Regions from separate parts of the Homo sapiens genome. Here region 1 is linked to region 2. Evidence: fine-mapped expression QTL. Tissue or cell type: whole blood. Region 2 holds a variant in brackets; the other region holds the start of a gene. All regions are shown on one strand. Distances are between the middles of the regions. Region 1 holds the start of LINGO2 (leucine rich repeat and Ig domain containing 2). Region 2 has its middle 110 kb from the start of LINGO2.

What was found. PIP is the estimated chance that this variant, and not a neighbour inherited with it, causes the effect.
Region 1: it holds the start of LINGO2, and the variant in region 2 is fine-mapped to the expression of LINGO2 in whole blood (TOPMed, PIP above 0.99). The same link has a PIP of 0.9 or more in blood mononuclear cells.

What each region holds. Positions count from the first base shown.
Region 1 is chr9:29,209,721-29,218,413 of GRCh38, forward strand. LINGO2 (leucine rich repeat and Ig domain containing 2) reads right to left here and starts at 3,881. Exons shown (of 7, transcript NM_001258282.3): 1 at 3,202-3,881. RefSeq lists a silencer at 2,472-2,521.
Region 2 is chr9:29,316,034-29,324,726 of GRCh38, forward strand. It overlaps the pseudogene PDK1P1. Among named protein-coding and RNA genes, the nearest start is that of LINGO2, 110 kb to the left of the region's middle. RefSeq lists an enhancer at 6,323-6,412. The variant A/G (reference allele first, on the strand shown) is at 4,343.

The DNA of each region.
Region 1 (8,693 bases), 110 kb before region 2:
ACATCAAAGTAGCCCCTAAACCATAAAGGGAAGAGGCTTGGTGACATATTTCAACAAAATTATAAATACAGTACTCAGAGGTTGGTTGAGGGCTATGACAAAGAGAAATATTTACATAAATTGAGAAAATGGATTTTTTTTCAATCTAACATGCTTCCTTAAGGATACAACACAACCAAATTGGAGAATCAGTAACTGACAAACCTCTTTGCATATAGTGACCTCCTCTCCTTGTACTACAGGAAAACATTTCCACCTAGAGTCCTTTCACAGAATATCTAGAGACCAAACGAAATCAACCATAATGACTACCAGAGCCAGATCATAATCAGTTTTTAATTGAAGTATCAAGCCAATTAATTTGTGACAACTTCCTATCACTTCTTATTCTTGACATGAAGTTGCAGAGGACTCAAATGGTTTTCTGGTCCATGACAGCTGTGGAACATTTTAATGTTTGGTCTCTTTTAAAATCACATTTATTAGAGAGGAAAGCATCTTTAGAGATGGAGTCCTAAAACTGACTCGAGATTACAAACCAGCCTCACCAGTTTAATTAGATTAAATGTCAAGAAAGAAAACTTCCCTTATACATCATATACACAGAGTCTTAATAGCAGATCTTCCTTTGGTTTTAGAGGTGTCTTTCAGAAATACATTTGAGCCCTAAATATGTATGTCTTTGTTAATTTAATTCAACAAATAAATGATTAGTGTATATATAAGTTGTACCTATATTCAGATGAGTATCACTTTTTCACACCATAAAAATTTCTAAAATACTGTATTTTAAGAACACAAACGATCCTTTTTGGGACTTCATCAAGATATATATTCTTGCCTTCCACACAGAGCATCATCCACTATAATACATGAATGACAAACTTTATATAAATCTTCCCTGAGATAATGCTATGTGTTATTCAGCAATGAAAAACATCAATAAATTGTCCTGCTTCCATTCCCACTACAGTAAAATTATATAAAAATATTAACATATATGTACCTTAATCAAAAATAATAGATGCCTTACATAACTAAACCACTTCTGCCATCAATAGGCAATCCATTCCATTTAAATTCTTAAGGTGAAATACCTGGCAGATCTCAAAACATTTTACTGGTTTTGAACAGGAAGTACATTTTTTTTTCTTCCTCACACTCCAACTGTATTGGGAGTAACGCATGCTACTGGGTGATGGTGACAGAACCCTAAAGAACATCTCCTTCTTTTAAAATGTTAACCACTGCTTCTAATTTCTGAAAAATATTTTTTGCCCTTTCAGTATGTGGCCCAATATTTTCACCAATGATGGATCTCAGCTTCTATTCAGTATTCCTGGAATATTCCACACCCGATGGTAATTTTTGGTCTTCCTTTAGTATTATTCTAAATATTCGTCTTTGTTAAGAGCCACCTTTCCAAGACCCTGAAACTGCATTACTGAGTGTAAAATGACCACATATGGTATGCACAAACACAGCACAGCACGCTGAAAAATACATACATTACCGGCTGACAGACACGGGGGTAATCACACCAAGCAAACACAATAAGCACTCTTTCATTTATTTATTTATCTATTGCTTAGACACACTCATCAAACATATTCAGTGCCCACTGAGCCCAAGGCAGTACACAGCACAGATAATATCTGTTAGGTGGCTTCAGCAAACTGGATTATGTCAAAGTGTGAAATGTGAAGTGAATCTGACTTCATCAAATAAACTGAACTCCAAGGCCATTTCCCAGCACTCACTCCCCCACCTCAAACACACAAGCTTAACTTCGCCCTCCTTCCTCTTCTGATGCTCAGACCATGACTTCCTTCTCATCCTTCTCTTCTCTTCTCTTCTCTTCTCTCTCTCTCTCTCCCTCCCTCCCTCCAAGTATTTCAGCAGCTTTCCTCAGTTCTCTGAGCCAATCCCTCGGAAAAGGAAATCAGCAAAATGCTGAATGGGGAGACTTCACCAGCAGGTGAAGAGGAAAAGAAGAGGGTGTGGTACTCGTTTTCTCCACCACACCCCATCCCTGGAGTCTTGCACTCCAGTCTACTGCGGCTCAAAGCGGGCACAGCAGGTCCCCTAGCTCACCTCGGAGCAGCCTGGCCCAGACCAACCACCCAGCGTTCTCCGCAAAAAACTTCCCTTAAAGCAGCCAAATATTCAAGGGAGGCGGGGGAAATTGGGCATTAGTTCGAATACACATACAACAGAGCACCACGGAGCAACACTGAAAGGCACCTTTTTTAGATACAGACCCTATAGACTCTCTCTCACCCTTCACTCCCTCCCACCCTGAGTATCTGACTGAGAATTTACAGAGAACCAAGAGGCGAAAGGAGAGTGGAGGAGAAAGAGGGCATTACCTCCCGGGGCTGCCCTCAGGGTGCGGGTCAGGATCTCATCCCCGAAGTGGCTCCAGTTCAAGGCACAGCTTTCCAGAGCTCAGCCGGGTTCGGACCTGCGTCCCCGCGGCGCGGTGCGGAGCTCGGAAGCGCGCCGGGACTGCCGCTCACGTCCCCCGCCCCTGCCGCGCGGGCTCCGCCACCCCGCGAGCACGCTGGCTCTCCGCGCTCACCCCGCCGCCTCCTGGCGCCCCCACACCCACCCGCTCCGCGGCGCCCGCTGGGAGCCTCTAGCGGAGGCGAAGGGAACAGCAGGCGACCTGCGGCGCCCAGGTTCCGACGCCGGTTGCAGGGAGCCGGCCAAGCGGCAGCGTGGGCTTCGCGCGCCCCCGAGTCCGCAGGCCGGGTGCCGCCGCCGCCCCCACCTGCCCACCTGCGCCAGGCTCACCTGCCACCGCGTCCTAGTTGCGTTCACCGGTGCCCACAGCTCTCTATGGCAATTGGGGGTGGGTCTGCGGTGCTAATAAAAATTTAAAAAAAAAACCTCTCTGGTAAAAAAACGAAAACCCAAAACCCAAATCCACGCTGTATATCAACCTCCACAGAGAACCCAGTCCGAAATCGTTTTCCAATAGGTTTCAGAAAGTGTGAGGACAGGACACTCCTCTGGCTTCCTGCCTCGCAGCTGGGCAGCGCCGCACCGGCTACTCCCTGACTTGCCAGGCGGGTCGTGCGATCGCGTAGCGACGCCCGGAGAGATCCTCCTAACTTGACTTAACCCCCACCCCATCCCCAACATCTATTTTAAGTTATTGTCTCTGGCAATTCAAGCAGCAGCTTTGCTGCCTCTTACCTTGAGGCGCTGTTAATTCTCCTTCGTGTCCTTAAAATCCCAAGCCAAGGATGCGACGCACACAAGTCCAGGGGCTTTTCCTGGACTTCCCCCTCCTCAGCTCTGAAGGCTCCTCCTTTCCAAGGGATCAGGAGGGGATGGCGGTTCAAAAGCCCTCACCATAGAGGCGCCTCCAAGCCTTCGTACCAGTGGAAATGGAGACCGGGACCACCTTCCCGGCACCCGGAAGCCTCCCAGCCCCTCCTGGGCCAACTTGGCTGCCTATTCAGTTTTCTTCCGTAACCCCACAGACACGTCAGTCAATTCCCTGGCATCAGGCAGGATATTCTCAGTTGCGGCCGCTCCTCTTGCTTTCTCTCGATAATGCCCCTCCCCCCTTTCTCCCCTTAATTTGGAAAAATTTCTACTCCCTGCCCGAATTAGGTGGGGATGAGGCGGAAAGGTGTAAGAAGAGCCACTCCAAGGCACAGCTTCGGAACACCGTCTCCCTGGGCTGCTGCAGCGCGAAGGTGTCTACGCTGGGGAAACTTTCAGGGGAGGCAGCGCCGGTGCGGGGCTGGGCGGGCGGCGGGCGGCGGCGCCAGGTGAGGAGGCTTTGAGGAGGCGGCTGCAAGGCGGGACGCAGGATAGCCGGCTGGGGCTTGGCAGCCGGGCTCAGAGCTCGGGCTGCGCACACACACAGGCGCGCACACCCGCGCGCGCGCAGCTACACACGCACGCCCAGCCCTGCGCCCGCGGCCCCCGGCCAGTGGCGAGCGAAAAGTCGGGAGTCCTGAGGAGGGGTAGGGGTTCCAAGGATGCTGATGACAGAAAGAGTCAATCAATCCTCACTAGTTAGCGGATTGCCGGCAGGCAGTTCCTCGCCGCACGCCGTTAAGTCCGTTGGGCCACCTCTCCGTTCTCTGCCCTGTCTGGCATTTCAACTCCCTAGCTCTTTTCTTGAAGCCAGTTACACCCCCTCGACACCCAGCGAGAGGCCACCAGACTAAAGATGAGCCCCGTTCCCATCGCCACCCTCCAGGGGCCACCTCCGCCCCTTCTGTAGTGGAGAATTGAAGTGGCTGCAGCAGCTCTCCTGGGAGCTGAGGGGCTCCCCGAGGTCCTTCGAATAGAGGAGCCTACACATCGCTTCGTGAACATAATCCCCTCGCATCCCGTCTTTACCTGCCCACTCCCTTCGTAACATTTCCCCCAAGGAGCTCCCGAAAGTCGCTTAGATGTTTTGAAAATGAATTTCTTAGGGAATTGTAGTGCCTAGCTTTTGGAACTGGGTTAATTTAGGTGCTACGCTTATATTGTAAACTGGACGGTAGCAGGTGAACGGCTCAGCTGGAGAAAGGGGAGGGATTAGGAGTCTGGAGACCCAACCCCTTTAGCAGCCATTTCCAAGGTTTTGCACCAGGAGTAGCTGTCCGGGTCTCTGGCTAGCTCCTGTCCCAACTTCTTTTTCTTCCCTCGACGGTCGGGAGGGATCACTGGGTGCTACACCGCTGGGGCGTCCCAGGCAGGAGAGACTTCGCTCTCAGAAGCGCCCCCGTGTCATCCACAACTCCCACGAAAGGAGCTTCCCAAGAGGAGTTTGTTTTACCCGGAATGGGCTGCAGGAATTAATTGCTTACAGAGAGTAAACTTTTGCCCGTTGTTTTTTTGTTTTTTGTGCTTTTTTTAACCAAAGCTTGCATTTGTGCTCCGCGTAGTTTCTATTGCAACAGAGCGCTACTCTGCCTTTTCAACTGTGAGACAGAGGATTGCTGAGGATTTCTGCCCTCTGGGGCTTCGCGAATATCTATGGCTTCGGACCTGCTAGCGGAAAACGCAAAGTTGCCCAGCTTGGAGATGGCACCAGGTTCCTTTGCTCTGGCGCTGGATGCTCCGCTCCGCCACCCACCGCCGCCGTCTCCATCGAGAATCTCCTCAAAATCAAGGGAGTTCTTGACTGTCCCTCTCCAAATTGGAAGGCGGTTGACTTTGCCGGGAACCGAGTTCCTGAGCGGCAAACGTGGAGTCGCAGAGCGCAGAAGTGAAGATTTAATACAAAAGATGAAACTTGTAGGATGACCTCTAGCAGCGCTACTCACAGCTCTGAAATCGATCCAGAGCATTCCACAGTGAGCGTTGCGGCTCCCAGGGGCTCCGGACCGGTAACTTCAGGCGCAAGTCTGAATTTCAGGGATGAACCTGCTTTGGATTCTGTTTGAGCCGACTCAGTGCAGAGGCAGTGACAGGGGCTGTGGGTTTAGGGGTGATGGATCCATGAAGGCTGCCACTTGGAGCGAGCAGACAGTTGGCGATACCCTCCCACTAACTTGCTCCGCTGCTCCGGGCTGTTCACAGACAGACCCACGCGTAAGGATTTAGAGTGTGTATGTCCAACGCCCAGACTTAACTTCTGGTGCAATTAAGGGAAGAGCTTGAAGCTAACCCGCGCAGCTTGCCTGAAGAAGTGAATAATGAAATCGGTGATGAGGTGCTAAGGAATAAAAAGAGGCATTTTGTTTGCGTGTGTATTAGTTTGCCAGGATTGAGTTTTTAGGTTTGATGTCCTAAAATGTATCTTCGACAGTGACTCTTTTGCAGCCTTTCAAGAGGAGGATGTTCGGCAGTATTTTGGAACCTGGTATGAATCTATACATTGTCTGCGTGCCGCAATATTTGATGCCTCTTCGAGTTCTAATTCTTATTCCTAATTAATAAATGACTGTTCCTGATAATGAAGTGGGAATAAGAATTATAATAAACTATTTCCAACAAAAGGCCATCTTTAACTTATGATTTCTGATTGTATAAGCCTATCAATTACCAATAAAATATTCTGCAGACTATTAGGCATGAATTGCAGAGCTGTAATGAAGAGACTCACTTGGTTCAAGAAAATTCAGAATTTAGAGCGACTCCTCTCCAAAAAGGTTGTGACTTCAAATTCCTTTCTTGGTTGCTGTTGGTATGCAGGCCACTGTCTGCAACTGAAGTTTCTGTTTAAAGTAAACATAGGTTATTTACATATTCATTAACTTTAATACGTGAAGGGTGCCTTACAGTGGTAGGAAATGTTGTGGAAAGTCTTGTACCAGCCATGGCGAAGTCTTTTTACTTGCTTTGAGTTTTTGATGTATGCGATGTGTATGCAGTAGTGGTAATCCATAGCATAATATTCTTGACATTTAAGCACCCTCAAAAAAAATAATAAAAACCTGTAGATTTATGGATCCTGTTCAAAAAATGGAAGAGGATAAGGATCACCCTTTTCCCCCTCGCCTTTTACATTTTGCTTTTATGGGGGAAATTATTTAACAAACAAGGAGAGCAAACCTCAGGATCAGAGGATGTACCCCATTCCCGCTACCCTTAGGTCTATCTATGGAATTGAAAAGAAACTATTGAGACTCAAAGATACTGTCAGATCCAAGAATCTGATTTCACCACCAAATTAAAATAACTACAGCATTATTCCAGTGTTGTCTATGTATTTATGTTTTCTGATAATTGAATTTGAAATATATGATATCTCTTCCAATGGAAACATCTTGATCCTTTTCCCTCCTTAAGATCATTTCTCTACAAACTGCCATTTTCAGAACACCTTTTACTTCTCTAGAGCATAGCATTCAGTCTATTGGTGTACTGTCTTTTCATAGATAAAAGCTATTCTTTCTTTACTGGTATGCCTTTGCTACTGTACTGTGAGCTCTGAGAGCACGGATCTTGTCATTTACATTGTTGTTCCCCAGAATCTATACAGAATCTAGTACACAATAAAATAGATGTATATGATGATGATGATGATGATGAAAGCGACCATGTATTGAGTAATGACTTAATGACTATGTAATGTGATTTATGTACATTATATCAGTTGATCCTGTTTACAACCTGCTTACCTAAATTTTATGTCCTCAAATTACAGGGAGATTGAGGCTTATGCAAATTTACCTAAGGTGACAAATCTGTTTTGTCACAATTAAGTATGGAACCTACACAGTATCTTTCTGACTCTGAAGCCTGCACTATTCATCATTTTGCTCTGTTCAAATAGCCAGGTCCCCACATTTTCAATTATTCAAGGCTAAAAGGAATTTATATGTTGTTAATGCTAAAAAGAGGCAAATTTAAAAATGAGTTCCTTACCTCTCATGCAATCGAGTCAATATCTATTTGAGTATCAAAACACAGGACCAGTTTACTTCTCTTATTGGGTTAAAATAGGAGAGTGTCTTCTTGGCATTATTTTCATGGGAATGCCAAATGCTGAGTTATGGGTTTCCTTTCAGAGAGGGGAGTCAGGCCATTGGGAATTTTATGGATATAGAAAACTTTTTATTGTTTACTTCCATGTTGATACTCTTATGTAAAACAGAGGAGGCTATTATAAAATCTCAGTTGTGTAAGATGAATAAATTCTAGAGATCTATTGTACAATAATGTGCCTATAATTAACCATACTGTATTATACACTTAAAAATGTATTAAGAGGACAGATCTCATGTTGGCTAATTGCCACAATTTTAAAACTAATAAAAATAAAAGCCTCAGAACACAGACAACACTGAATACAGAATGACATAGGAACATGCCATAGAAATGTGTTATAGTTGTCAATTTCAACAGCTCATATTATAAAACATCTTTTATACCTTGGATCATTACAGTACAAATACAAAATATCCATATCATGGAAGATTAAGCTGCTATGTAAAATAATGAGGAAATTCTCCTTAATTGGTATAAAAAGGTCTCCATGATATTTTTAGGTGAAAATTGCAAGGTGAAGCAAGGTGTTGTCTCCAAAAATTAATAAAATTGGTTGGGGTCATGGTGTAAGTGGGCAGATGGTATCAAAGGTAGAGGTTAGACTTTTTATGTTCTTTTGATTTTGGAACCGTGTGTAAGTTTTACCTTATAAAATAAAAGAGTGCCTTTGAGGGGTTGCATGGAAAGAAAAGTATAACAGATGTATCTCCGCCTTTTACTTAAAAAAGATGTTTGTTGCTGTTGTTGTTGTTGTTTTTAAAAAGGGTAGGTGAAAGTTGTGAAATAACCTGGCCTGCAATACATTTGCTCATTTACTCCTGCCAGGGAGAGACCTTGAGGGAAAGAAGCAAAAAGGGGTTTCTTAGTTCAGACTACTGTAACAAAATACCACCGCATGGGTAGCTTAAATAGTAGGAATGTATTTCTCACAGTTCTGGAGTTCTGTGAGAAACATTTTTCACAGTTCTTGGAAGGCCAAGATTAAGATGCTAGCCAATTTGGTTCTTGGTGATGGCTCTTTTCCTAGCCTGCATACAGCTGCCTTCTAACTATGTCCTCACATGGCCTTTTCTCAGTGTGTGTTGGGGGGAAGAGAGAAAAAGAAACAGAGACATTTCAGCCACAGTTTATATAGCAACTAATCCTATCATGAAGGTCCCACTCACATGACCTGTCTAACCCTAATTACCTCCCAAAGGTCTCATCTCTACACACCACCACATTAGATGTTAGAGCTTCAGCAC
Region 2 (8,693 bases):
ACAGTCAGTTCTCTGCCTCAGCTGCAGTACTAAGTGGGTGACAGAATGAATTAGGAAAATGTATCCCTAATTCTGCTTATTTATTAAATTCCTGGTGTCTCAGAATTTAGCCTGAAACTTTTAATCTGAGAATGTGTATCATGAACATCTTAAAGTCTGATATAGCCAGTGCAGCTGCTCTCACTGCCTATCTCCACACAATATGTACAGAAGACTGGAGATTTTTGAGAAAACCTTCTTTGGAGGAAACTCATAGATAGGAGGAAGAAGTTGTGGGATTTCCCCTTCCTTCTGACTAGAGAAAGAAAGGTGTACCCTCTTTCTTCCCAAATAAAGCTTAGTGAAGGAGCCCCCTAAAATTACTCCAAATAATTCAGCTGACTGCAAGAAGGTGTACAGGTATTCTATTTTTGGACTAGATGCTTGTTAAATTGTAATTTCCTAGTCCTTACTATGTTGCAACTGGTGATTAATGCAAGAGACTTCTTATTCCCCAACATTTAGAATTTTAAGTTTTAATTTAATTTAATTTAATTTTAATTTAGAAGTTAGTGGTTGAATTTTGCCTAGGTAGTTTCAAAGGTAAAAGATTGGCTGGAGTAGTCTTACTTTTGCAGGATAAGGCAAGGAAATCCAGCAACAAAAATGTCTATAATTGCTTTATTTGGTAGTAAAGGAAGTGTGAGGTCCTAAGGGCTACATAGTACCTGGAATAGCAGCTGTCTTGAAATTCACCCAAGTGGGTTGGCCAATGAGGTGAGATTTAGCAGAAAGAAGCTAAGAGTTTTCTGCCAGGGACAAGAGATGGAGCAGGGTATAAGTGATCAGGTAGGTAATATATCAAAAAGTTAGAGAAGGGGACAGTGCAAAACTCCCTTAAGGGAGGGAGGGAAGGGGGACACTCCAAAAAACACACAAATGGGCCTTAAAATAGAAAGTTAGCTTTTGGATGACGACTGTGTTGGAGGGCACCGAGAGCCACATTGTAAAAACAAAACAAACAAAACAAAGTAAAACAAAAACAAAACATTTGACACATAGCATATGCTTTGTCCTTCTTCCTTCAAAGCTCTCTTCCTATTCATATTCCCAATGCTGGATGTAGAAGACAGGTGGGAAGGAACAGAAAAGTTAATTGGAAAGTAAAACCAACTCTACAACTCCTTTCCCCACAGGCAGGTCTACAAGCCATGAGGCGGGCCTGAGACGAGCAAGAGGGGAAGAGCAGTGAGCCAGATTTGAAGCAGAATTTTTGTTTTAGAGTTCACTGGATGTAGAAAGAGATGAGATAGGAGGTCTGGTCAAGATGCTGTTCAACGATAGACAACCGAGGTATTACAAAGCATGTTGGTAGGCACTGGCAGGAGAAAATTCCTGAGTATACCATACCAGGTTCAGCTCAATCATAAACCAATAACCCATTTTTGGCAGAAATCATTTTATTCCCTCTCATCCACTCCATTAAGTTTGGTAATAGTCCTAGTTTTCATTTGGGGATCCTTTCTGGTAAACCTAATTCCTGACTCTAAAAACAGGGCTTATAGCTCAGGCTAAAATATTTCAGCATAAACTCATCTTCTGGAGACATTATTGGTTCAAAGAAGGGTGGCAACCAATTGCAGGTGGCTTGGGCTCCTGGTGTAGGGTTCACTGAGGGCTGGGATGGCAGCTTCAGGGATCTCAGCACCAAGCCCCAGTGGCACCTTCGGAATCTTTATTCCCCCAGCAATGGCTGTGACCCTGAGGACTCATTTGGGTCCTTGTAATTGCCCTCTGCTCAATGAAATATATGGCCTTTTGACTTTTACACATGCTTCTTGCCAACTTTTGGATCTGGGAGAGGGGTTGAGAAGACCTCATTCACATATCTCAGGCCAGGGTTGGCCATGGGAATAGCAAATATAATTAAAGAAATAGTCTCCTTCTGATAATCTCAGAACATCATCATCAGCTCAACTGATACAGAGCTGGAATATTAGAAGTCTTCAGAAGTTGCTTAATTTTTAAGGACGAAAATGCTGAGGGTGCTAATGGTCTTTATTTTTTTCATAGACATGGTGATAAGGATCTGTAAGACACAAGGACATTGGCATAGCTCAGAATGTGATTAAATGTTGTACATGAGAAATATGCAATGCAATTGTGTTTGTCAATTAAAAAAATAAAATATATACAGGATTGCTTTGGGGATATTCCCACCACCAGCCAGAATGTTAACTACATTTTGGATATTTCGATATGAGTTGCATTTTGATTGTAAGGTTACTCAACTTGCTATTCTTTATTCTATGGTGGCAAAAACAAGATAATTCCATCCAATCAAAATGCTTTGGAAGCTTTAATATAAATTGCAAGTTAGCTAAAATTATTAAAAGATGGCTAGGAAAATGCTAACGATCTGTGCAATTTGTTTTGTATTATTTCTCCTAAAATTAAAGTTGGAGAACTAAGTGCAAATCACCAGAACAGCTAATCCAAGTGGTTTTTGTACCACTTGTCTTTCTCATAGGGAGTTTGAACTTTTTAAGTGACATGAGAGCAATCATGGGACACTATACTGACAAAATGTGTTTAACCCTCTATCCAAGTTCATGTCATAGCAGGTAGTTAGGATTGGACACATATGAATGTTTGTTGAAGTGTTGTGCCTCTGAAGGAAAATCACAGATTCTTCAACCACATGTATTCATGTAGATTCCTGCAGAAATATCTGGAGTAGCACTCCTGGCTGGTTTGAATTATGGATTAACCAACGAATGCTTTGATGTATAATATTTCAATGAGAACCAAAGCTATGTCTCCTAGAGGGTTATGTGGCAGATGTATTTGTCCACATTAGACTCCTCATTATATAAGACAGCTGCGTAGATGCAGGACAATATCAACCATGAGGCTTATGCTTGCAGCCCAAGCAGACAACAAAGAGGTATAAAAACATTCTTCAGTGGCTACAGACATCTAGGACACCTAAGAAAAAAAATGTGGGTTTTATATTAAGTTTGGAAGGGGTGGTGTCCATACTTGATACCAAATATTTTAAATATCATTTTCATAATTAGTTATTCTGGGTATAATAAATGGAATTTGAAATCTATGCATGTCTTAAAACTCCTCAAAGAGAAAATTATACGTATTTTTTTAACTTATATTCTTGCAGCTAACTGAGCTTATTTTTCAATAATAGTATTTTTGGTTAACTTTTCTGTCCTGTTTATGGTAAACTCCAGAGGCATGAGAAAAGTTTGAAATTCTATAGAAAGCAGTTTATTTTATGCTTTTATTTAGTCTACGAGACACATTTTCCCAATAATACCAATTAACTACTCAGCCATCTTTTTGTTATTTGGAGAACTTTCATGTTATAGTTAGTAATGACAATTGTTATAAGATAGTCTTTGTGTTTACCAGTGAATGATTACAAGTAAAGTGGAAAACAATTTTCCCATGAGGAACAGCCACCCACTTTTCAGTGTCTACCTGAACTGTCTTAGCTCTGCAGTTAATATACCATTTTAAAATTTTCCTGAAAAAGATTGTTACAGTAGTTCTCTACAGATTTCTGAAAATCTACTCTGAATGTGTTGTGATTAATGTCGGAGGAAAATGTTATAGTAGGCCTAAAACAGAGAACAAAGTAGTGGTTCCCAAACTGACCAATTTCAGAATTAACTAGGGAGTTTTGAGAAACAGAAATTTCCTTTATCCTGCCCAGATATACTCAATCAGAATTTCTAGGGCTGGAGTGGAGTGGAGGAATCTCAAGAAAAAACAACAACAAAAAAGTTTTCCTGCTCTAGGAAGCCATTGTTTTAAAATTAATGGCAATACCAAATTTGCTAAAGTAACAGAGAGATCTATAGGTTTTCACTTTCACTTTTTGAAAGGTCAGGTTTCTAGACTCTTGGGGAGAAACAAACTGTATCCCAGGCTGATGCAATTAGAGGACAAAGCAGCAAGTTAGAAAAGAAACAAAATGACTACAGAATAATCAGTAAACTGAAAGATTTAAATCATAAATGTATAAGTGCCCTTAAAGAAGATATATGTTATATAGTCTCTAGATCTTTTCATCAGGAAAAGTCAAAATTGTTCATCACAAAGATAATCATTTGCATCGATATGGTAATCTCTTTTGGTCTTCAAAACAGTGAAAGATAGACAGGAACGTTTCTATCTTCCTCATTTTGAGAAGCAAAGCTTGTCTCAAAATTACAGATAATTGAGCCAAGGTACAGAAGCCTATGTGTGCTGATCTGTTCTATTTGGTGCTATGTTTTACAGGCAGAGCTGTGAAGTCAGGGGACGGTGTTGTGGGTGATACCTCACACTCTTTTAGTGTGAC[A/G]GGAAAGTAATAATGCATTTCTTGTAAATGTTGATAGCAAAGGTTTGCAACTTAAAAGGGGAATTTCATATATTTAGAAAATACTTTGAGGTGAAACCCTCACTCTTTAAAGGATTATTTAAAATGGTAATGCTACTACCTAAATTGGTAGATTGGAAGGGAGGTTAAAGGGCATTTAATCATGTTCCCTCATTTTATAGGTGAAGACTCTAAGGCTCAGAGTGCTTTATGGTTTGCATAGTAATTCATAGCTAATCTGAACAATTTTTGGAAAAATAACATCTTTTCTATTTTTCCATCATTATGGATTTGTTAAAGATACTAAAATGAGCTAATTGGTGATTTGTTAGTTCAAATTGCTAATTTTTTAACTTTAAATTTCACTTTTCATGCAAAAATGAACCTTTTTATAATACTTTGAACTGAAGAAATCTTCTTTTCTAAATAAGATGTCATACAACTGAGATAAAGTTTATTATTTTACTTATGAAGGATTCCACCATTCCCAAAATTAAAGTGTTACTTTCTTTACCTGAACACTAATAATAATGGTGGTTTCAAAGGAGCAGCAAAAGAGAAATATTTTCTATTTTTCTTTACAAGCTGTTTACTGTTTTTATTTTGCTCTCTGGTAATAGACAGAAAATTATATAAAACAATATTTTGAGGGAATTTTTCTCCTGGTTGGTTTTAAATCACTGTGCTCCCTGAAACATTTCAATGTTTAAATTCTTCTCAAGTTATTATATTCACCAGTACCTGATTAATCCATTGCAGATATAAAAATGTATTGAAGAATAATAAATGGATACCATGTGATTTTTTAAAACTTGGACAGCTAATGAATGTGGCAACATTTTAAAGGAGGGGATAGAAAAAAATGTTCTGCATAATCAATAATGCATAATTCATACTTAAACATCATTAATTTCTAGCACTACGACATTTTTAAATGAATATATTGAAACGGAAACAAAATATTTTACAAAATGTTTTCCATATGGCAGTAATCTAAAAAATGGGAAAAATTTGTCATTCTTCACTCAGTTTGGCCCAACAAGACTAAATAAAATATTTGTTATGATGTGATGGAAAATAGGGATCTTCTGGCTTATCAGGAAGTTTCTGGAAGTGAGCCTTTCTTACCTAATTGATGTAAAAAAAAAAAAGAAGAAGAAATGTATAACTTTTCAACTTGTAACTGAAAGAAATGGCAGTTTGGGAATAATGGTAATATTACTGAAGGTAAAGCAGAGTGCTATAGAAAAGCTATCTCTTGATGATATTCTGTGGTCCTTCAAGTAAATTAAGTGCAAAGGTTGGCCTCTTTACTTTTATTTACCTAGGCCAATTAATGCCCTTAATTTTTAAGCCACTTTGTGCTTGAGTTTTCTGTTGCTTATAAATCAACGCCTCTTAACTGATAGATCATTTCAAAATCTAAAATTGTACCATGTGCTGCTGTCATTGATGCTGCGTTTTTCTTTGGGTTTTTATCCAATGATGTAAATGTTATAAAGCCTGAAGCTATATAAGAGTATCCATTTGTAAATCAAATAGATAAATAACCTTTAGGTATAGAAAATAGCCTCAATGGGATTATTGTAGAATTCCCCTAGGAATATCATGAAGAGTAAATATTAATGCCTTTTAATTGCTGTAAACTATAGTGTGAACTATAAAGTTTACACTATTGACATGCAGGATCATGACCAATTTTAAAGATGAGTTGATAAATATTACTCAAGAGAATAAATTCACATCCATATCTGCTCCAAAGTAATTTTCTCAAACTTGCATTTGTGTCCTAGTTAATTTATCAGGAAATGAATCTTTAATTTGGAAATATAGTAGTATGGAAAGTTTGTCAAACTTAATTTCTTTTTGTAGAACACTTGACTACCCATATATGATCTTAATAGGATAGTTGGAAACAGTTGATAAAAGTGGACAGTCTGTTTCACTGGCATAAAGTCATCCTTTTTGAGGTCATTTATATTTGTCTATCTTTGAGAAAGCAACATACTTGGTTTCGGTTTCTAGGTGGAACTTCTGAGTCAAGTTGCTGCTCAGAGCATGTGGTATTTTGCAGACTTCAACTCCACCTCAGCACTTGGTTACTAACCACTTTTTTTCTCTAAAACATGGGCAGTTTATATATTATGAACATTGTGTTTACCTTCAGGATATGGTAGTAAGTAGTTTCAGCCATTACAAATCATCATTTTTTTTTCTCACGTCCCTAAGAGCCCCTAATAAGCATTTCTAAGTTCTTCCAAGCTTCTCTCTCCTTTCCCAACTCAATGTTCTGCTCCTAATCTCAGCTGCTCCTATTTTATTGAGTCATTGGCACATGACTCATCCATTACTGAGATTGAGCTGTGTCTACCCCAAAATTGTGACAAATTTTACCATATCTGAATGGATGTATTCGTCAGTTGGGGCTATCATAGCAAATTACCATAGACTGAATGGCTTCAACAATAGAAACTCATCTTCTCGTAGTTCTGGAGGTTAAAAGTTCCAAATCAAAGTCCAACAGGGTTGGCCTCTGGGGAGAGCTCTCTCTTCCTGGCTTGCAGACATCTGCATTCCCACTATGTTCTCACATAGCCTTTTCTTGGTGGGTATGCAGGTAAAGAGAGAGAAAACTCTGTTGTTTACTTTTATAAAGAAACTAATCCTATTTGATCAGGGCCCCACCATTATGACCTCACTTAACCTTAATGATTATCTTAGAGGCCTCATTTCTAAATACATCCACACTGAGGGTTAGGGTCTCAACATATAAATTTTGGTGGGGGGACACAAACATTCAGTCTCTAATACTGAAGAACAGGTAGTGGGGGAGATTTCAAAGTTATTATCTGCATGAGTTACTGAGCATAACTCTGGGATGTGGGAGTATAGGGAAACAATTCCTAAGAAGAGAGAGAATTGAAGCATGTTTGCTTCGTGGTCGATGGATGAAATCCAACCAATGCAGAGAATATACTCATAGAATATTATCTCTTTCTCAAATACTTCCTAGTCATGATTCACGAGTTAATGTTTGAAACTTTAGGATAAAGGACTAAGAAAAGTGAATAAGAACATCAAATGTCTTATAGTTGGACTTCCCTGGGAGAAAATGATAGTGTAAGATATGAATAGCCTCAACATTCGTGACTTCTAGTCTGAAAGACAACTGCGCTAGACCTTTGTCCAAAGATTAAAAAGTGTTTTGGGGCAGGGCGCGGTGGATCACGCCTGTAATACCAGCACTTTGGGAGGCCGAGGCGGGCGGATCACTAGGTCAGGAGATCGAGACCATCCTGGCTAACACGGTGAAACCCCGTCTCTACTGAAAATACAAAAACTTAGCCGGGTGTGATGGCGGGTGCCTGTATTCCCAGCTACTCGGAGGCTGATGCAAGAGAATGGCGTGAACCCTGGAGGCAGAGCTTGCAGTGAGCCGAGATCGCGCCACTGCACTCCAGCATGGGCGACAGAGCGAGACTCCGTCTCAGAAAAAAAAAGTGTTTTGGGATTCATAAATGAAGGTCATTAACACCCTTAATATTGAAATAAGCAAACATTGGACATTAGCATCCTTGGTCTAGGCATTAGCAGACAATGGAGTACCTCTGGTAGGCATCATCAAGAGCATTCTGGTGCTCTTGATGAAAACCTAAAGTGTGGTTTAACATAGGTATTCACAGAGGAAAGGGAGGGAGGGTGTAGTCTGTGAAGTGCTTGTGAGAATCTTGTTTTTGTAAATATGTGAAACAACCTCTATAATTTCTGCAGGGTTTAAAGTGAAATAACAATATTTATAGATAATATGTTCAGAATACCTAGTATGTACTTAACATTTAATCTTTTAGTAATCCTATGAAGTCATTACTAATATTATTTTCTCACATTACTGATGAGAATTACAGAGATACCTAGCACCTTGCCCCAGATCATTTAGCATGTGACAGAGCTGGCATTAGAAGCAAGACAGTTTGACTCTCTATTTTTTAGACTAGTGTTTTTTAAAACTGCTGGAATTCTTGTACTTTGTGTAAGTACTATTGTGATACTAGCTTTTACCCTGAGGCAAAGATGGGTTTTGAAATTCAGGTTCATTTAATGGGTGCACAATAAAGTTTGGGGAATTATAGCAATGAAAATATCTTTAGCCTGTGGGTAAGATATTACCTTTACTTTATTCATCTGGCCATACTATTGCAGGCTAGTCATAGAGATTAGAGAGTAACTTCCTTCCCTGCAGGTTGAAAGATACATTTATTCATTTATCAATTCACAACATTTATTTTAAATGTGTAGCTAACATAAACCAGAAGTACTGGGCACAAAAATGCAG